2 separate regions of the Homo sapiens genome follow, and region 1 is linked to region 2. Evidence: fine-mapped expression QTL. A gene starts in region 2. The other region holds a variant in brackets. All regions are shown on one strand. Distances are between the middles of the regions.

Region 1 (8,000 bases), 22 kb before region 2:
AACATCCAACGTGGTAAAAACACTGCAGTCATTAAGAGTCACTATCCAGCACTTTAGAACTAATTACCTTACATCTTTCCCCTGGACTTCTCCTTGGAAACATACATATTTCATAAAGTAAAGCTAAGTTATGATTGAAGAGTTACAATACTTTAAAATTTTTTTGATAACTGATGCATGTATTTTAATTTCACTACAATAGATGCTGTAAGTCTGTTTTAAAGCAATGATTTCTGGAAGCTGCAATCTCAAATGAGTTATCTGCAGGCAAGAGCAGACTCACTTGGCAGGACAGAATGCAGGCAACTGCGTTAGTTATGGTTTTTCTAAACAACCGACTTTAAAATTCTATTTATTTTACTTTTAAAATATACAGAGAACAGTGGAAACTATTTTAACTGTTAACAAAAACTAAATCTACAATAAGAGCACTGGAAAGTTAGTAGACATTCGGACACATAAAAAGGATCAATTTTAATATCTCTTTGAATCCTTTTTATCCTTTATCTCCTAATAAATATTCCCCCATAACTTATACTTCTTTCTTAGTGTAAAAGCCAACTAACACTTTACTTATATACAAATAACTAGTTTACCAATTAGTTCACACAATAATGTAACAACACTAGGACAGATTACAGAGCCAGTTACAGACAAAAACAGTAAGGAAATGTTTAACACATATGACTGTGTGTTACAGTCAAACATGACTATAAAACTATGACTGAGTAGATGTGAGATTCTTCCTGCTTTCCCAAAACACTAAAGTTGAATGATTTTTAAATTATCTACAGCTTTCTATTATTCACACTGTCATTCTTAATTATGCCATAGATAACAGTTTACAGTAGCCAGGGAGCAGCTAACTGTAGCTTAGTTCGATGAAGTTTGAGCCAGGTTCCTAAACATATGTGTATGGTAGCCTGTTAGGCCTCTCTAATGGCTCTACCAGAGTTCTAACTTTATTAGTGTCATTCTTTAACAGCTGGCTTCTCCACTAAGTGCCATGAGGGCAGAAACTGTAACTTTTTTTGGCTCATCATTATATCCACAAGTCTATCTTGCCTGCTTCACTGTAGGCATTCAATACATATTTACAAATAAACTGACATTACAAAATATAAATAAAAATTCAACTTAATAATTTAAAAGTGAATAAAAAGTATAAACATCCTTCAATTCCCTCAAGTATAGATTTAAGTATTAAAATTCTAGAACTTGAACAATGTATTTTGGTTTTGTTTTGAGAACACTGATAAATTTGAGCCCCAATACTTGGTAAGATCAATCTTGAACAAAAAAATACAAAACTGTATTATCTAGAAGCTAACCAAATGCTGGCTATGACTCCAACATGGGTTATTCTTAGTAATACCTACATTTGATATATGATAGACACATTCATACATAGATAATTGATAACACAGTGATCAAAAAACACTATGTTCTAGAATTTCAAATACCTACATAAGCCTTTTTCTCTTTACCAGTGTAATGATGAGAGCAAGAAAGAAAAGACTAGTGATGAATGTGAAGAGATCATTGAAAATCATTACGTCTGAAGCATTACATTCTAGAAGTTTTAAAGCATTTCTGACACTCTAGTAATTTAATAAACTAGTACAAAAACTGGAAAATAGGAAAGTAACCTGTCAGAGACCTAGGCTAGAGGCATATTGACTGAATATAACGATACTACAAATATAAAGTGATCTCCAATTTCTATCATTAAAAAATTAAAATGTTTTGGGTTCGTTTATACAGAAACTTTAAGAGCTACAAATAATTATGTTTTATTACACAGTAACTGGTACATATTATGAATCATACATTCTATAAAATGATATTAATCTAGAAATTTTGCTTTTTCCCATTCACATTTTCTATTTAAATTCTTTACATGATCTTCAATAAATTTCATCTAACCTACAGTATATCATTTTCACTTCTGTACGAAGATTTTGCAAATACAGAATTTTTCTGAATCCATGTATAATTCTGGCTCTAGAAACTGTATCCCAAGCCACACATACTTATTTGTTCAATATCTGGACAGCTGTTTATTTCATTAGTCCTGCAGGCATATGTTCATAATTTCTAGAACCATTTACTATATGGCTTTTTTTTTTTTTTTTTTTTGGTGATCTTGAAAAGGCTAGACTACAGTGACATCCACAATTTGCAAATGTGAGGTTCCATATCCTGAAAAAAATTACTAATACTAGTCATATTTCTTACCTTCGATTTAAATTAACTATGTAAGGTGACTTCTATAAGCTTCCTAAACTGTCAAACTTTCATTTACTGAGATTATTTCAGGCCAATGTGTCTGTTGGGTCTGAGATTTGATTATCAGCTGGTAAGTTAACCTGTTCCTGTTTCATGGATGCTGGCAGAAGACAAACACTCCTGAGTCACAGCAAAGCAAGCAGCATGAGCCCCAGTATGTTTGCTGCAGGTCTCCTCTCTGACCAAGTCCCATAGGGAAGACGTAGAGGGTACATACAGTGAAAGGTACATACAGTGGTGTGTGTTACAGGAGAGAGGAACACTGAACTTGGGAAACCACCGGTATTATAACAAGCTTTAAGCAAGCCTACATTTTGTCACAGGAAGGAAACATTACTTCATCCCTCGAGGTTTCTCACTGCAAACATACCCTTGAGAAATGGTCTGTGTAAAGGAGGGTCAAGGCTTTGCATTCTTGGCCTATTCAGCAAATTGTTTATGAATGCAAGGGACCCATGGAGGACTCCATCTCTCAAGAGTGTCTCACTAAAACAATACTTGTTGTTTGAAATAATTAATACACCATCCTACAACATGAGAGACTTTGTAAAACTCAAATAAAAGCCAACTCCCCCTCCTTTCTGGGGGATAATCTCCTTACATTTAGACATACAAATCTCCTCTATTAGAGCACAGATTATTGAAATTAAACACTCCTTTTAAATGTATTCTTCTAAAAATGACTTCATCTACTTTACTACTTTGATGACAGTCAAGGAAAATGAGATATTGCAAATCATTTCATGTACATGAAGTTATAACTGTCATATCCTGTTTCTTGGTAACAGTGCAAAGATGTAGACATAGCTGTACTAAATAGGACTGTATATTTTATTGGAAAAAATATTATAGTATGCCTCCTAATTTAAATCCAGGACTAGCAGTCATGCTTTTTTGGAACATTAGAGGTACTTATGTAATCAAAGGCGTCACCACAATTTATTTCATATCCTTTTCGTAACCCATTCCTTCTACTAATGTTTATAAATTGAATCTTTTTTCTGTTAATTGAGTACTCAGACAAATAAGCCTTCAACAAGCACATCAAAATGGATCCAGATAGGTATAGGACTCTATTAAGGCAAATAACTAAATATATTTAAAAATTGTATTATCAATTGCCATCATCGAATATGGGTTAATAGGATAAATAACCTGTCCCAGTTAACACCGAATTAGGAGGGATTCAACAATCTTATGGTAGGGATGTTGTATAGTCGTCATGTACATTGATACAATCAAAAATTGAATCTAGAAAAAAATTATGTTGAACTTGGTCAAAAACAACCTTAGGTTAAACACAACTGACAATGTGAACAAAAAGAGGAATCAACGACTAATTCTAAAAACTCCAAGACCATGAAATATATCTACTAGTAGTGAAAACTTATCAGACTCCTCTATCCTCAAGTATAATCTAGAATTAAGAATAGCTCACTATTTGCAGCTAGAGTCATTATTTACAAGATTTATGTACTTCCTCAGGGAGGTTCCTCAAGAGGCTTCAGGGAAAAATGTGATTCTGTTAAAATACTATGCAAGTTTGTAGTTATGTCGGTGAAGTTTCTTGAGGTGAGATCAGTGCTTTCAACTTCTTTTTTTTTGAGTCGCCCAGGCTGGAGTGCAGAGGTGGGATCTCAGCTCACTGCAACCTCCACTTCCTGGATTCAAGGGATTCTTAAGCCTCAGTCTTCCAAGCAGCTGGGATTACAGGCACCTGCCACCACACCCAGCTAATTTTGTATTTTTAGTATGTTGGTCCCACTGGTCTCGAACTCCTGACCCCAAGTGATCTGCCTACCTTGGCATCCCGAAGTGCTGGGATTACAGGCGTGAGCCACCAGGGCTGGCCTGCTTTCATATTTGCAGGAGTTCAGTCAGGGTGGTGGGAAAAAATGTAGAAAGATGCAAACCTTGGAAGGCCAAAAGGTTTTACATCAGTTTCGGAACAGGATTTGGCTGAAAGCAGCCAGATTCTTTTATACGGTGCCTGAAAGCTTAGGTTAGATAACGGGATGTTAAGAAACTGATC[T/C]AGATAAGTTACTTAGCTCGGAACCTGGCCTTTAATCATTCGTAGGACTGCTCTCTCCTGGGAGGGGAACCATGTTAATTATCCACAAGTGTGTTGACTCAAAGCCTTTGCCATTATATCTATACTGAATAAATGACCACAGCAACAGCTAGTCGGGACCGCGGCTGCTAACTCTTTACAGCACCCTCCTCAGTGTCTGTGGGTGGCCCAGCCCCCTAGCTCACTCTTTCACTGGATACCTGTGTTTGAGTGCATTTGTTCATCTGTCGCTGGGTCAGGGTCTGCGGGTCAGACCTGGCACATACTGAGGGGTCTTGGACTCAAAAAATTTTAAGAATCTTCTATTTTAAAATCTGAGTATATTTTTCCAGAGTCCAAATATATCACATTACCTGCCAACTGGAGTATAAATACAAAAAAACTTCCCAGATAAAAATTATAAACAAAGAGGAAAACCTGATTTTTTATTACTTTTAAAAGCAGACAGCTGTTATCCGGTATAAACAGTCCCTAAAAAACTAACATTAAGCCAAATAGCTTATAGCAGCTCAAAACACATTAAAATTAGCAATAAAATTCCTAACTGGCATAACATTTAAAATTTTTTTTTTAATGTTACTTTAAGTTCTGGGATACATGTGCAGAACATGCAGATTTGTTACATAGGTATCCATGTGCCATGGTGGTCTGCTGCACCTATCAACCTGTCATCCAGGTTTTAAGACCCACATGCATTAGGTATTTGTCCTAATGCTCTCCCTCCCCTTGTCCCCCACCCCCAAACAGGCCCCGGTATGTGATGTTCCCCTCCCTGTGGCCACGTGTTCTCATTGTTCCACTCCCACTTATGAGTGAGAACATACGGTGTTTGGTTTTCTGTTCCTGTGTTAGTTTGCTGAGAATGATGGTTTCCAGCTTCATCCATGTCCCTGCAAACGACATGAACTCATTCTCTTTTATGGCTGCATAGTATTCCATGGTGTATATGTGCATAGGTATGGACATATACCCAGTCTATCATTGATGGGCATTTGGGTTGGTTCCAAGTCTTTGCTGTTGTTAATAGTGCTGCAATAAACATATGTGTGCATGTGTCTTTACAGTGGAATGATTTTTAATCCTTTGGGTATATACCCAGTAATGGGATTGCTGGGTCAATTGGTATTTCTGGTTCTAGATCCTTAAGGAATCACCACACTGTCTTCCATAATGGTTGAACTAATTTACACCCCCACCAACAGTGTAAAAGCCTTATTTCTCCACAGCCTCGCCAGCATCTGTTGTTTCCTGACTTTTTAACTCAGCTAGGTAGGTATTACTCTCAATTTTGCAATGAGTAACTGGAGCTCAGAAAAACTAAGCTCCATTCCCAAAGCTATGGTGCTGTTAATATTCTGGACTATGTGGCTTGCAAAGAGGGCTGCTGCACCACACAATTCCAGAGCTAACTGTGGCGTGATGCCTGGAACTGACATATGTGCTCTTCTGACCATGAGGTTACCTCAGTGCCATTTACTGTCTTTCCATTTTTTTCTTTAAATATTAGCACATATTTAACATTTGTTTCAGAGATACAGAATAACCAACAAAGAAATTTGGGGAACTCTTTCTTTACAAACTAACAAAAAACCTTCCATTAATAATACCGAACTATAACACAGCAACTATTACATCCTGAAACAAGCATTAAAGAGGGAATTAACTTAAATAAAAATCAATGCTATCATATAAGTGACATCTTGTTATATTTAAAATACATAATATACCTTTCAATTTGTGGAGGCTGCTTCTTGGACTCAACTGCTTTCAGGAATTCAGTAAAATATTCTGGCTTTACAATTGGACGTCCACAAATGAGTGCACATATTGTCTACAATGAAGAAAACATGTGAATATATATATTCACATGCTAGCATTTTTTAAAGAAAAGTTTTAAGTTATAAACTACAAAGAGGCTGTTTACATCCATAAAAAATAATGTTTTCCCTTTCATCTCTCTAAATTTATAAAGAAGCCACAATCTATAAAATAGAAGTCGGTCTTTGGTCACTGCATTATTTTAGAACATAAATCACAGTATAATCACTCAATTATAAGAAGTCACCGATTATAATACTAATTTTTAAAACTGCTTTTTTGGAAAGGGTGGAACAACATAAAATAAAATTCAATTTTAAAATGCATTCCACTTTCGAAGACATTAAAATGTTAAAAATATATTTCAGAATTGAGGAAATGTAACATATCTGCTTCAGGGAAGACAATATTAGGAGATGAACATGAGCTATTTTTAGACTAATTGTCTTTCAAAAAGATTGTAACTATGCAATAAAGCCTTTTTGAGAAAGTAAATAAAATAATTTTTGGTAAAAGCACAAAATAAGTACATATAAAGTGGAAAAAAAGAAACTTAAACTCACATGTGAATTAAGCTATAAGCCTCAAATATGATACATCCAAAAAATATGACAAACATTAGAAAATGCTACAGTGGGCAATGAAAATAAGATTCAGAATAATATAAATATGCTTTTTTATTTTTGAGACAGGGTCTCGCTCTGTTGTCCAGGCTGGACTGCAGTGGCGTGATCCTGGTTCACTGCAGCCTCAACCTCCTGGGCTCAAGCAATCCTCCTGTCTCAGCCTCCTGAGTAGCTGGGACTACAGGCACATGCCACCATACCCAGCTAATTTTTAAAATTTTTTGTAGAGATGGAGTCTCACTATGTTGCCCAGGCTGGTCTCAAATTCCTGGGCTCAAGCAATCCTCCCACCTCGGCATCCCAAAGTGCTGGGATTACAGACGCAAGCCACTGCACCCAGCCATGAATATGCTTTCAATAACACAGGGTATTTTATTGTCTAAATAGGGGCAAGCAGATTTAGATTGTCTCTCAAGAATGGAACCTGAAAGATACCACTTTCCAATGTGAAAGAAATAAACTAGCATGAACCAGTAATGTGCAAATCAACACTGTATTGGGTAAACTCTAATACATGTGACTTGGGAAATTAATTGGTCCATGCCTCAGTTTACACTTCAGAAAATAAAAGTTGAACTGAACGCTTTTTTTGTTGTTGTTGTTGTTGTTGTTTTTAAGTAGCTAATAGTAAGAATAAATGGTCTTTAAATTCCTTTTTGGCTCTAACATTCAATGATTTAAAAAATATAAGCTAACTGTACTTTCAGAAAATTTACCAAAAAAAAAAATATAACAACAAGGTTTTCTATTTTGGCATATGAATGACCAGGAATTTTTTTTAACAAATTACTCTGTAAACCACGTTGGTGTGTGTAATGGAGCAATTCACAAGGTGGTCATCAGCATCCCACTCGCTGGAAGTGTCCAGGTCTGTCACAGATGTAGTAAAATATCTCTCAAGACAATTTAACTACCTTTGATTGTATTTCACACCAACCAAGCTAGTGTATGATTACTTACTCTATTTCTTAAGTAATATCTTAAAGAGGACTGTGCTAGGGCCCACACTTAAATATTCTGGTAAAGGTGCATCCCTACTGAAAACCATAAATGGACACTTTGATTTGTAAATCTACTATTTGTAAGTTTATATGCATATATTAGTACTCTGGAGGCTAATCACACTGCTGAATTTATAAAATCAATTTCATAAATGTGCAAAAATAAAAAAACCCTTGATTACAGACAACCCCACC
Region 2 (14,054 bases):
TGTCTTGGGGTGGGTGGGGTGGGGGGACGGGATGATTTCTAGTCTCCTCTTGTCCCATACTTGTGAAGATAACGTGTTAATTTACATCATCGGATGAGGGAGGTCCCCTTTGGAGATACGTGGCCATCTGTCAGTTTAAGACAAAAGGAAAGGTAGTTTTGGTTTTTAAAAATATTTTTTCATGACTCAGTTTCTGAGCTTAACTTTTCCCTTTTGGCATAGTGATTTTATTTTCCTTCCACAAGACACTATATTATATATGGTAGTTGTTAAGCAAATGTGACTTTCCTTTTCTTCCTTTATAGTTCCATGAGGGAAGGGCTGGTGTCTAAGACATGTCTGTGTTCCTACTGTCTAAATCACTTTTGTTTCTCATATTTACCATAGTGATGAACACATGGAAGATGCATAACTCTTTGTTAAACTTAACTACTCATTGAACCTCTTTCCAACTTTTACTTAGATTGCAACTGTGAAGGTCGGTGGGGTGTGGAGTGTGGGTGAATGAGAAGCATGTGGAGATCAAGTGTTGATTCAAGGTGTATCTTTATTATTCTGAATATGTCTGATAGTAAGGAGCAATGAGTTCTATTTTTGTGTCTCAATGCTCATTCTACTTTACTATAATGATTTTGCTATAATAATTATATATTTTACTAGAATAAATAATTTAACTTCTATGTGTCTTGTTTCTTCTTTATATGGGGATATAACAATATATGTATGATTAATCTGTGCATAAGCAGTAGAATTAATTGAAACATCAATGGATTACTTGAATCGTATTGGCTGTTTAATCATAGTTTTTTTTTTTAATTGAAAGATAAAAGAATATAAGACTCCAAATTGCAGAGTATAAGATTTGGCTTTACTGAATGAGAACAAATAAGTCTATGTAATGGGATCATGGGCAAGCCTCCCTTGCAGAAGTCATTCAAGAAGCGAATTAACAATTACAAAGCACTTTGAAACTCTGAAGCTTAATATTTACCTAAAATGTGTAAATTAGATGAAATATTCAAACACCAGAGATACATAAGAGCTAATATTATATATAATATGTTATATATATTTAAGCTATTTTATTTTAACAGCATTTCACAATGAACTCCTTAGTACCACACCAGGTTACCTATAGCAATTCTGCCAAATCTAGTTTATTTGCAAAATCACAGATTTTTAGACCTACAAGCGATATTATAGTTCTATACTGATCTCATTTATGCAAACACCCTAGTTTTATGGATGAGGAAAATAAAGCTGATAAAAGTTAATTTGTCCAGTAACAGAAAGCCAATTTGTCACAGAGTTGTGACAAGAACAGTATCATCAGCTGTTTTGCTTCTCAGTGCAGCTCTCTTTCAATCCCTTCAGCTCCCAAATGGAATGGACTTAGTTCCTGGAGCACAGCACAACTCTTGAGCAATTCCTGTGATGTGCAATCTGGGGAGTGAAGGCAGGATAAAAAACCAGAGAGGCCTAGCACAGTGACTGACATTTGTAATCCCAGCTACTCTGGAGGCTGAGGCAGGAGGATTGCTTGAGCCCAGGAGTTTAAGGCCAGACTGAGCATCATAGTGAGAGCCGGTCTCTAGGAAAAAAAAAAAAAAAAAGCAAAAATCCAGAGGGAGGAACATTATTAACTGTAGCTCCCTTTTCCCCGACTCAGACTTGCCCTTTAAGGACGTCAGCAATCACATGTCTGGCACCTTCCACCAGAAGTAAGCATGACTCTCCCTTTCAGGTGGGCCTTACTGATATTCTTCAGTAGTGAGTCAGATATCAGTCAAAGAGTGTCTCAGTCTATTTATTCTATTTCCAAAATAATGTGGAGCAACCCTCTGTCCATTTCTGAAAGGTGTGGGTCTTCCTCACCACAGCAGCACAGGCTGGTGTAACAACATGGCTTTGGGGCTGGGTGCCAAGGGGTTTGCTTGCAGCTTACTGCTGTTGGGGATGTCCAGTTAAAAACAAAATCTCCTGGCACCCCAGTAGACCCACAAGCAATTGACTAGAGATTGTGAAGACAAAAATAAATCTCACACTTTATATAGGCAAGCAGATACAACCATTTCATACGTGTTCTTAAGAGGAACAATAATTAGTCCTCAAGTAAGAGGACTTGATAGCACCCTTTGTCACACCTTGTTCATACCAAATTCACTTGATAATTAGGGTTATCACCCTTATTAACTAATTGGGTTGATTTAAAGGAAAAATTAACTTATTTTATCTTTACGACTGGGGGTAGGTTTCAACTTGAAGCCAGGTAAACAGCTTAAGTTAGGCTCCTACTCTCCCACAGAAATAGGAGATAGGATAGGGCCACTATCTTCTTTGATTATTACTTTGCAAAGGAGTGGCTGTAGGGTCCTTAGACACTGCTGCATTGTAAGGCTGGCAAGAGGCTTACTTAGCCTTAAAAAAAAAAAAGATTTGCATACATTTCAAAGAGACAACGAAAGAATTTGCAATGACAAGATTTATAAGGCAAATGCTTTAAGCAAAGGGAGGAAGGGAAACCTCTTCCTTTATTTTCAACAGGAAGAATTAAGCCTCTTATTCTTAATTTGTGTTTGCCTTTACATTCCCAAGCTGGCTAAGCCTGATCACCCTCTTCAACCTGTTTTCCTGGGGCAGAAGCTGTGAACTTTAATTTCATTCAAACACAACTCTGTATTTTGGATACTGTGTGTCTTTTTTTTTTTTTTTTAGACTCTAACAAAAATATTAAACTGCACTGGCCAGGCAAGGTGGCTCATGCCTGTAATCCCAGCATTTTGGGAGGCCGAGGCGGGTGGATCACCTGGATTGCCTGGATCACCTGAGGTCAGGAGTTCAAGACTAGCCTGGCCAACATTGTGAAACCTTGTCTCTACTAAAAATACAAAAATTAGCTGGGCTTGGTGGTAGGTACCTGTAAGCCCAGCTACTTGGGAGGCTGAGGCAGGAGAATTGCTTGAACTCGGGAGGCGCAGTTTGCAGTGAGCCAAGATCATGCCACTGCACTTCAGCCAGGGCAACAAGAGCAAAACTCCGTCTAATATATATATATAACATTTATATCTAATAATAATTTATTATATATAAATTATATATATATAATTTATATATAATAAATTATATATATAATTTATATATAATAAATTATATATATAATTTATAATAATATATTATATATAATATATATATAATATATATTATATATATAACATATAATATACAATATATTATATATAATAATTATATATAATATATTATATATATTATATATAATAATTATAATATATTATATAAATATATAATATATTAAATATAATAATATATAATATATTATTATATAATATATTAATATATTATATATATTATACTTAAAATAAAATATACTACCTTAAGGAAGAAAAATAAAAACTTACAAAAGGCCTTGCCAAAAGCATTGGTGTCTAGAAATTATGCTTAGTGCAATTATATATGCACTAATATAATATAACATATATTATATATGATATCATATATGATACATTATATGTTATATATGATATATTATATATAATATGTATTATTAATATATTATATACCATATATTATATTATAATTATAATATATTATATTTAATATATATTTACTATAATATATTATATTATATTTAATATAATATATTATATTTAATATAATATAATATATTATATTTAATATAAATATACTTAATATAATATATATTATATATAATATTTAATATAATATATATTACATGTTATATATAATATAAATAATATATATTATATATAACATGTAATATATATTATATAATATATAATACGTTATATATATAATTGCACTAAGCATAATTTCTAGACACCAATGCTTTTGGCAAGGCCTTTTGTAGGTTTTTCTTTTTCTCCCTTAAGGTAGTTTATTTCATGGGTAATAATCCTGTTGAATTTGCTTAGTAGTTATAGCTTGTGATTCTGTGAGAAAAGAAAAATCATTACATAGTAGTATCAGGGATTCTATGCTAATTCTGGGCTAATTACTGGCCATTCTCCATGTGCATGATGATAGCGAGCGTTTGCTGGCTGTTTTGTATGTGTCATGTTCTGTTCTAAGTGCTTTAAATATATTATGTCATTTAAATCTGAGTAGAAGCTTGTGAAGTTGACACCCTTACTATTGTATCTGCATCTCACAGATAAGGGAATCAAATGAGAAAGTTTGTAACTGGCTAAACATTATACATCTAGTGAGACATGTAGCTTGGCTTAAACCCCAGCAGTCTGACTCCCGAGGTTCTACCCCACTAGCACAGAGTAAAATACAGTGGCTGAAAACAGGGGCCCTATAGCGCGACAAGGCTGGGTTCAGATTCCATCACCGTTGTTTACTAGCTGGACAGTTTGCCTACCTGTGTTGTGCCTCAGTTTCCCAAATGCTGATAATATAAGCCTTATAAGTGCTTGTGACGATTAGTGAAATGTGTACACAGACTGTGTGCAGAATCTGACATACAGAAAAAGTGGGGAAACACTAGCTTTCATGAAAAATAGATCCTCAGACACTGAAGTCAGGCTCCATGGCTCCCCCTCATGGAAATACTGTAACTTACTGCATTTCGAACGGCCTCTTGGTTTTATGCCCCTCATCTGTTCCTTAGTAGTGCCTATGACTGCTGCACATTCTCCTCTAAATTACTTTTGTAATAACCTCATTAGAAAATGGTAACAGTCTCAGTACCTCATTCAACAAAGTGTTTGATGGCTCACCATGCACCAAACATTGTGCTAGATATGAGGGATAGAAGGATGGTAAATTTAAAAAGGTAGGCACCCCGCCCCACAGCTGCTAATATATAAGAGAAAGACGCAATTGCAATTGTAACAAGAGCCCCCAAAAGGGAAATTCAGTGCCCTATGAAAACATACAGCTAAGGCAAGGGCTGATTTACCTGAAGCTAGTAAATTTCAGGGCCTCTTGCTTGCACAGCTCTTCCAAGGCCCCAGGGCCATTTCTTTTTTCCAGTAAAATTCACAAAAGTAAGTTATTTTAACAAAAGGAGTTAAAATAATTCTCTTTCCATTCCTATTTCTGTCAAAATTCCTCTCATGTTGGATGATGTTGGAGTGGTCACCAGCAGTTGGGGTGTCTGCTAAACTGAATTGGGGAATTAATTTATTTCTTAGATCAGTTCAGAAATACTTGTGTGGTTTGTTGTCACTTCACTATAGAGTTAATGCTCTATACTGTCCTTTGGTGGGGCTGTCTTCCAGCAGACTGGACTATACTTTCTGCCCACCTTGTGACATTTATGTGCAGGGCCAGAGGTGGTATTGAAATGTAGAAGTGTCCAGTGGTACTCAGCTCTGGAAGTAAATGGGAATTGGAGGAGAAGCAAAGTTTGAATTGTTTAAAGTGTATGAAGCCATAAGCTAGTATCAAATTATGTAAAAGTGTTAGCAGAGGATATGGTTTCATGGATGCATAGTCAAAACAGAAGTTTGTCCCCATCATGAATATTCACAATTTAGTGTTTACTATTATGAATGCACCATGCTTTTTAAAAATATGATAATAATTGCATACAATAGAAATTTTTAGAAATTCTGTCTTGGCCAGATACAAATCTGTGGTGGTCCTATGAGTGGCAAATCTAAGTGTGTGTGAGGTATGATTTAGCACTTGAACTCCTTATTCTCTCTATTAAAAATATGCTTATAAAATCTTCAATAAAGGAAGAGGTGATCAAAGAGAATGCAGCTCCGAAATGTAGACGGAAATTGCAATTAGAGATGTGTTAGACATTTAAGTAGTTTGAAACATTACTTTATATTTGTGTGAAATTTAGGATACTGTAAATTTTTTGGAATTTGTAATTTGTTCTAATTTCTTCTTATATTGTAAGTTAATATTCATTTTTGCATCTAATTTTGTAATCTTTTTCTTAAATGGCTTCCCAAAGTTTATAAGCTTCAGGTACCACCAAACTTGGATGCTTCCCTAGTAGGAAGACCTGAATTAGTGTAGAAGTCAAGGTAACTTTTCCTGAGAAAACAAAATCAAAGCTGACCCCTGATTATGGGGTCAGAGGCAGCCATACTAGGGTGATGATGTGAAAGTGGGGAGAGGAGGCATGTGTGTGAGGGGAGCAGCCATTGCTGGAGTGTAGGAGTCTGCCAGTCACTAAGGCTGAACCATCAGATAAGAAATCAGAAGAAATAGCACCAAAGGGAAAAATCTGTCCTCATGATCCAATCACCTCCCACCAGGCCCCAATTCCAACATTGGGGATTACAATTCGACATGAGATTTGGGTAGGGACACAAATCCAAATCATATCACCAATGTTGCAACTTCTTCTTAGAAACAAGATGAACCCCACTTTTAGGCCTTTTGATTTCAGGAAATATTAAAAATTAAAAATAATATAACCATTTTTTCTGTTCATATTCAAGACAAGCTAGTGGTATAAATATTCAACCATATATTCAAGGATGAAGGTAATATCATTTTATTTTATTTTATTTAAATTCCATTCCTAGCCCTATCCATTCCTCCATGATTGTGGGAATTGTGGGAAATTCAACCTTAGTCATCTTTAGTGCCCTGTCTCCTTTCTTCCCTCTCGGTATCATAAGAAGGACACCAAGTCCTATACAGGCCTTTAGGGGAGGCCTCTCTGATTTTCAGTTCCTAGTGGTTATATTTTTCCTAACTGGTTTATTCCTTTGAGGTTCCAACCCTCTGCTTCTGTACCAAGCTTGGAGAACGACAGTAAAACAGAACCCAGAGTCCAGGCTGCCTAAGTGTTTTATGTAGCTATTTCCCTCTGACTAGATTGTAGAGTGTGGGTAACGTAGTTTGGATGTGTGTCCCCACCCAAATCTCATATATTGAAATGTAATGCCTGGTGTTGGAGGTGGAGCCTGGTAGAATGTGATTAGATCATGGGGGCAGGTTTCTCATGAATGGTTTAGCACTATTCCACTTGGTACTATCTTCACCATAGTGAGGGAATTCTCCTGAGATCTAGTCATTTAAAAGTGTGCCCCTTTGCCTTCCATGAGTGGAAGCTTCCTGAGGCCTCCCCAGAAGCAGATGCCACCATGCTTCCTGTACCGCCTGCAGAACCATGAGCAAATTAAACCTCTTTTCTTATAAATTACTCAGTCTTAGATATTTCTTTATAGGAATGCAAGAATGGACTAATACAGGGGGTCTACCTAAAACTTTTGCAAACTTCTTTTTCATGTCTAATGTATGGTTGTGGTAGACAGAATTCTAAGATGGTCCCATGAGTCCCAGTCCCTGGAATTCATGCTCTGTATAATTCCCTTCCCTTAAGTATGGACAGGAACTGTGACTCACTTCTAGTTAACAGTATATGGCAAAGGTGAAAGAATTGTGCAGATGCAACTAAGATCCTGTGAAAGAAAAACAGAATATAGGGACTGTGAACTCACTATGCCATAAGGAAAGTTAAGCTTGGAAACTCAGTCACCAATACTGTCTTTTTTGTTGTCGTTGTTCCCAAACTGATAGCTGTAATTTCATAATCCCAAGACATAGCATCATTTCCTCTACTCCCTCTTTTCACATGTTTACTTTATCTTATGTAAAATGTAGATTTACTGAGGCTAATCAGAGCCTCAAAAGAATGGAACCATCTGCCTCACTGTCTACCCTCTCTTCCTTTTTTTTTTTTTCTCTCCTGCTTGCTCTTTCTTTTTTAAATAAAGAATTTCCCAAAACCCCCTTTGGAAAAAGCATAGGTTACAGATGCTCTTGTGAGTTGCATTTTTTTCCCAGACATGTTCTCAACCTTGGCTAAATGATCGCTAACCCACAGAGATCTGCCTCAGTCACTTTTTGGTTTGCAGTCCCAAGTCAGTTGATTTTAGTTAATCAAAAAGGGGTTAAGACTATTTTCAGTGGGCCTCACTTAATCTGGTGATTGTCCTTAAAAGATGGGCTGGGGCCTCCCTGAGGTACAGAATTGTCCTTGCTGGCTTGATGTAGTAAGCAGTCTGCTGAGGAAGCCCACATGGGAAGGGATGGAGGTGACTTCTAGAAGCTGAAGGCAACTCCAGCCAACATCCAGCAAAAATGTGGGGCTGTCAGTTATATGGTTATGAGGAAAATAATTCTGCAAACAATCTGGATGAGCTTGGGATCAGATCTTCTCCAGCTGAGCCTCCAGATAAAAACAGCCTAGTTGACACCTTGATTGCAGTCTTCTGAGACCCAGAGCCAAGGATCCAGCTAAGCTGTGCCTAGACTCCTAACTCCTGGGAACTGTGAGATAATAAATGATTAATTGTTTTAAGTTACTTATTGTGTTACTCCATTCTCACAATGCTATAAAGAAATACCTCATACTGAGTAATTTATAAAGAAACGAAGTTTAATTGACTCACAGTTCTGCAGGCTATATAGGAAGCATGACTTGAGAGGCCTCAGGAAACTTACAATCATGGTGGAAGATGAAGGGGAAGCAGGCTGTCTTACACAGCTGGAGCAGGAGGAAGAGAGAGGGTGGGAGGTGCCACACACTTTTAAACAACCAGATCTCCTGAGAACTCTATCAGGAGAATAGCACCAAAGGAAGAAATCTGTCCCCGTGATCCAATCACCTCCTACCAGGCCCCAATTCCAACACTGGAGATTACAATTCAACATGAGATTTGGGTAGGGACACAAATCCAAACCGTATCACTAATGTTGCAACTTCTTTTTAGAAACAAGATGAATCCCACTTACAATTTGGTTTGGAAGTCAAGAATAACAGTGCCATACATATATCAAGAGCTTAGGAAAAGTTTTATTATTGATATATTCTCAAGGTTTTTTTGGGAGGACAGAAAATGCCTCCTAAGCTGGTCTAAAAGTTATTTAAGAGGGCAAGTGTTCTGGGCTGAATTGTGTACTTCCCTCTTCTCCCAGCCAAATATATACATTGAACTCTTAACCCCCAGTATGTCAGAATGTGGCTATATTTGGAGATAGAGTCTTTAGGGAGGTAATTCCAGTTAAATTAGGTCATTGAGGGTGGGCCTTAATCCAACACGACTGGTGTCCTCATAAGAAGAGGCAATTTAGATATGGAAAGGTACACAGGAGGATCATGTAAAGACACAGGGAGAAGATGGTCCCACAGTGGCTCCACAAGAAACCAACTCTGCTGACTTGTGGCCTCCAGAATTGTGAGAAAACAAATTTCCATTTAAGCCACCCAATCTGTGGTAGTTTTGTTCCTGGACCAAACTGAGGGTCAGGCTGCTATTTCTTGCTGCCAATAATGAGATGTCGATGAACTGGGGATGAAGAAAGTTTTTATTTCTGTAACCAGTTACAGGCAGAAGGCCTGGAAATTATCACCAGACCAACTCAAAATTACAAAGTTTTTCAGAGTTTATATACCTTATAAGCTATATGTCTACATGTAAGTGTACATTCCTCTGAAGATATAAATGTTTCTTTATCAGCATTTGGAACATGCCAGGCAAATAGTAAACACTCAATATCATCTACCATCAGCCTCAGCCTGGGGCCTCACACCCATCTTCTTTTATCTAAAATTCTGAATTAGCTATGAATATTCTCATTTTACGAATGAGGAAAGAAATGTGATCTGAGCTAATGCCTTGTGTCAACAGGTATATTACACTAAGATGGAGAATGATATACTGAATCTGTGTTTGCCTTTAACGTGTGTTTAACTTCGAGAAAAAAGCCAAGGCTGGGCGGTCGCAGTCACGCTGCATCCGGCGACAGGGGGCGGTGTGTCCTGCGAAAAGTCAAAACGCCGGAAGCTGCCCTTAGTGTTTTTCAGCCTCTTGGTCTTAGGGAAAGTGAGGCCGTGTTTTACATCCAACATATTATTATTCTGATAATATGTGACTTGGCGCCACGCGCACTCTGCACTTAAACACGCACTTAAGGGATAAACACATACGACTGAAAAAGAGTTTCGCCCTTGATAGGCAGTGTATGGGGTGCGCAGCTGCAATCTGCAAACCCTTGCAGGGCGCGGGGTTTCGTACACCCGCTCAAGGACGCAAAGAACCTCCATTCTCTGCCATACAAAGCACTCCTGGCCCAGAGAGCAGGAAAGAGCATCAGCTAGGCCCAGCTAGGCGGCGCCCTCGGCCGGACTCTGAAGGTCAGGGCCGCTGGGCGTCCACGCCGCCTGGGTCCCAGTCCCCGTCCCATCCCCCGGCGGCCTAGGCAGCGTTTCCAGCCCCGAGAACTTTGTTCTTTTTGTCCCGCCCCCTGCGCCCAACCGCCTGCGCCGCCTTCCGGCCCGAGTTCTGGAGACTCAACATGAAGCTACCGGCCAGGGTTTTCTTTACTCTGGGGTCCCGGCTGCCCTGTGGCCTCGCTCCTCGGAGGGTAAGGCGGCCGGGGGCGCGGGGAGCGAGGACAGGGCGTCTCGACGCGCAAAGAGAGAGGACAGGGCGTCACGGGGGCTCGGGGAGCGAGGACAAGGCATCCTGGGGCGCAAAGAGAGAGGACAGGGCGTCCCGGGGGTTCGGGGAGCGAGGACAGGGCATCCCGAGGCGCAGAGAGAGAGAGGACAGGGCGTCCCGGGGCCTCGGGGAGCGAGGACAGGGTGTCCCGGGGCTCAAAGAGAGAGGACAGGGCGTTCTGGAGCGCTAAGAGAGCACAGAGCAACCCGGGGAGCGAGAGAGAGGACAGGACGTCTCGGGGCGCAAGAGAAAGGGCAGGAAGTCTTGGGGCACAAAGAGAGGACCCGGCGTCCCTGGGGCTCAGGGAGCTAGGACAGGGCGTTTTGGGGCGCAGAGAGAGAGGACCACCAGGTCCCGGAGCGAAGGGCAACGCCGGGAGTGAGCACCGGGGCCCGGGTCGTATTCCACTGTCAGATGAAGCCCTGATGTGTGTAGGGGAATAGGGAAGAGACGTGATTTTCGAAGTTTTCACAGTTCTGCAAGTTTCCAACTTGTGTGTAAATAGGTAGAAAGAGGTAGGGAAGGATACGGCGCCCGTCCACCCCTTAAGGAGTGAGAGGGGATCAGGCCGAGCGAGCACTGACCTTTGACGTCCTTTGTTGTGAGGAAAGTCCATCTATGTGTTAGTTATGGAATTAAACACTAATACAAACAAATTATCATAAAAATGAAACAAAAACAAAACCCCAGCTGTTTATAGACTCCCCTTCCCAGATGTATAGCTGGGAGAGGTCCGTCTCACACTGGCTTCCCCCTCTCTCTGGCCCACACTCCTGTCACCATCTCCATTGCACCCATAGTGGAAATAGCTAGGAAGTGAAAACAGCTAGGAAGAAGAAAGAGAAACAAAAACAAAAAGAAGCAATAATATCCAAGACAAGCCCTCCCCACATCTAAATTACAAAATTGTTATAAGTAAACTAAAAAGCACATTTTCTTTAGCCAGGTAGAAAAATTAATATGTCAACTGTGAAAAAACTTCTTTTGATTTGATAGAATAGACAGCCATGGTGTTGTTTTTCAAAAAATATGGGCAGCAGTAGTTCCAAATAGGAATACAAAGAATTAGTATGGTGGTTCCCTCAAGTAAGGTATCTTTCTTTTAAAAAGTGAGATTTGTTCAGGGTTAGGGTTTTGCTGATTTTTTTTCTCTCCCTGTGAAAACTGGGTTATAGATCATTATAAAGGAAGCCCATATTTTCTGATACTTTTCAGAGACATTTCTCATTTGAAATCTACAACAGCTCTGTGATGTCTTCAGAGATTTCATTTTTTAACACACATCATTAGGATTGTAGCAATAAGGTCATACAGACCTTATCCAAGCTCTTCTGACACCATTAGACAATACAGTTTGAGAAGGAGAAAATGAACTCATTTAAAAATTAATTGTAATCTGACAATTTTGAAATTCCTTTGCTGAAGAAAAATATGGAAGTTTTGAGGTTCAGGGTTGGGAGGCAAGAGAGGTACCTGTTAGTGTGGTTTGTCCCCTTCCTAGCACATGTAGCCTCAAGTTTGAATTCCTGGGAGAAGAAAAGTCTTTACATCTGTGATGTGGGAGGTTGTTCCAGGGAACATCATGTTTTTGTGGGCAAATACAAGTTGTTATAATTAAAACCCCTAATTTGAATATTTTTGTTACCAAGAACCAAGGCAAATGTTTAATTTGTTATAAAACCTGTTTGTGAAGTGCTGTGTTAAATTGTGCTGCTGGCTAATAGGCCTCATTTCAATTTAATAAATATTTATTGAGGACTGGCTTTATGTCTGGCCCTGTGCTATGCCCTGGGACTCAAAATTTAAAAAATACGAGCCCTGCTCTCAACTGTTCTCAAGTTGCTCTCAGTTCTATTGAGGAAAACATTCAGTCATTCAGTTGTTTATGAGGAAACACTAATTAATTAAGTACCTATTAAGTATTGGGCATTCTTTGGCAATTTGTGGTTGAAAGACATTCCTGCCTTCAATGTACTATAGTCTCATATATGTATTTTAAGCCACAAATAATAACCAATGAGTAGGCCTTGAAATCAATTTAGTGGAGCAAAACAGCACTTTGGGAGGCTGAGGCGGGTGGATCATTAGATCAAGAGATCAAGACTATCCTGGCCAACATGGTGAAACCCTGTCTCTAGTAAAAATACAAAAATTACTGGGTGTGGTTTCACACGCCTGTAGTCCCAGCTACTTGGGAGGCTGAGGCAGGAGAATCGCTTTAACCTGGGAGGCAGAGGTTGCAGTGAGCTGAGGTCGCGCCACTGTAGTCCAACCTGGCGATAGAGTGAGTGAGACTCCATCTCAAAAACAAAAAAATGGAATAGAATAGGATATATCTAAATTCATCTCATGTAGTAAGGTTGTTCATTTTGTGAAACTTTAAAAAAAAAATTTACCATTCTTCCTTTTTTGATTCATTCTTTGATTACTATCATGCACACTGCCATGTTTCTTTTCCTTTTGTTTTTATCAAGAGTAATAACTATCCAACCTGATCAACATGGTGAAACCCTGTCTCTACTGAAAATATAAAAATTAGCCGGGCGTGGTGGCGCGTGCCTGTAATCCCAGCTACTCAGGAGGCTGAGGCAGGAGCTACTCAGGAGGCTGAGGCAGGAGAATCACTTGAACCTAGGAGGCAGAGGTTGCAGTGAGCCAAGATCACGCCATTGCACTCCAGCCTGGGCAACAAAGTGAGATTCTATCTCAAAAAGAAAAAAAAAAAAAAGAATAGTAACTATCAAGAGTAAAATCACTATTTTTAGAAAAATGATTCCTGGCCAATATTCAGCAATACAGTTAACAAAGTAAGATATGACCTCAAACTGGCCACCTAGAATTAACTTGGGTTAGCATTTGGTGTATATCATTCCAGGCATCTGTTCTGGTAAAAGGATGGATAGGCATAATTTTACTTGGATGTCACATTTTCCCTTAGTCAACATTGTTTCATTGTTTTCTCACGATGAATATTGTCTTGGAGCAGTATAAAACCAACTAGATGTGTTTTCTTTATTTTTTTTAAATCTGGAAGCCTAAGTATTTCTTTATTCAGTGTAAAATTCTGGAATATAAGCTCTATGCAGGCAAAGATTTTCAACTGTTTTGTCCACTGTTTATACCTAGAACAGTGCTTAGCATAGAGTAAACATGTAACAAATATCTGTTACATGAATGAACGTGTGTACTGTGTTGCTATGAACATGTGTATGTTGCTATATAAATCACATTTCTTGCTATGGTTCACAGTCAGAAAAATCTGAAAAATGATAGTCTAGTGAGTCACCAGCAGACATCAATAGACTGTGAAGATGCAGATGTGTATTATAATGCATATATGACCCAAACTGTACATACCTAGAGGAGGCAAGGAAAGCTTCATGGAGGAGGTGGCCCCAGGAGCCTGCTGTTAAATCAGGAGTTGGAATTTGTGTGGTCCCAATGGCAATATAGACCTAAGGAATAGCATGTATCAAGAAGTGAAAGAGTGGCTTATTTATAAAAATTCAAGTGGTTTGTTTGGTATTGTGGAGTTGGTGAAGTATGGGAACAGAGAGAAGCGTGTGGAGACGAGATCAGTCAGGTTGCTGGGGG

What was found. PIP is the estimated chance that this variant, and not a neighbour inherited with it, causes the effect.
Region 1: its variant is fine-mapped to the expression of DECR1 in whole blood (TOPMed, PIP above 0.99).

Annotation. Positions count from the first base shown.
Region 1 is chr8:89,972,133-89,980,132 of GRCh38, forward strand. It overlaps NBN (nibrin), which reads right to left. Exons shown (of 16, transcript NM_002485.5): 5 at 6,088-6,191. Among named protein-coding and RNA genes, the nearest start is that of NBN, 8.5 kb to the right of the region's middle. The variant T/C (reference allele first, on the strand shown) is at 4,322.
Region 2 is chr8:89,991,179-90,005,232 of GRCh38, forward strand. DECR1 (2,4-dienoyl-CoA reductase 1) reads left to right here and starts at 10,299. Exons shown (of 10, transcript NM_001359.2): 1 at 10,299-10,383. The coding sequence starts at 10,315. RefSeq lists enhancers at 9,643-9,937, 10,786-10,925 and a silencer at 10,216-10,315.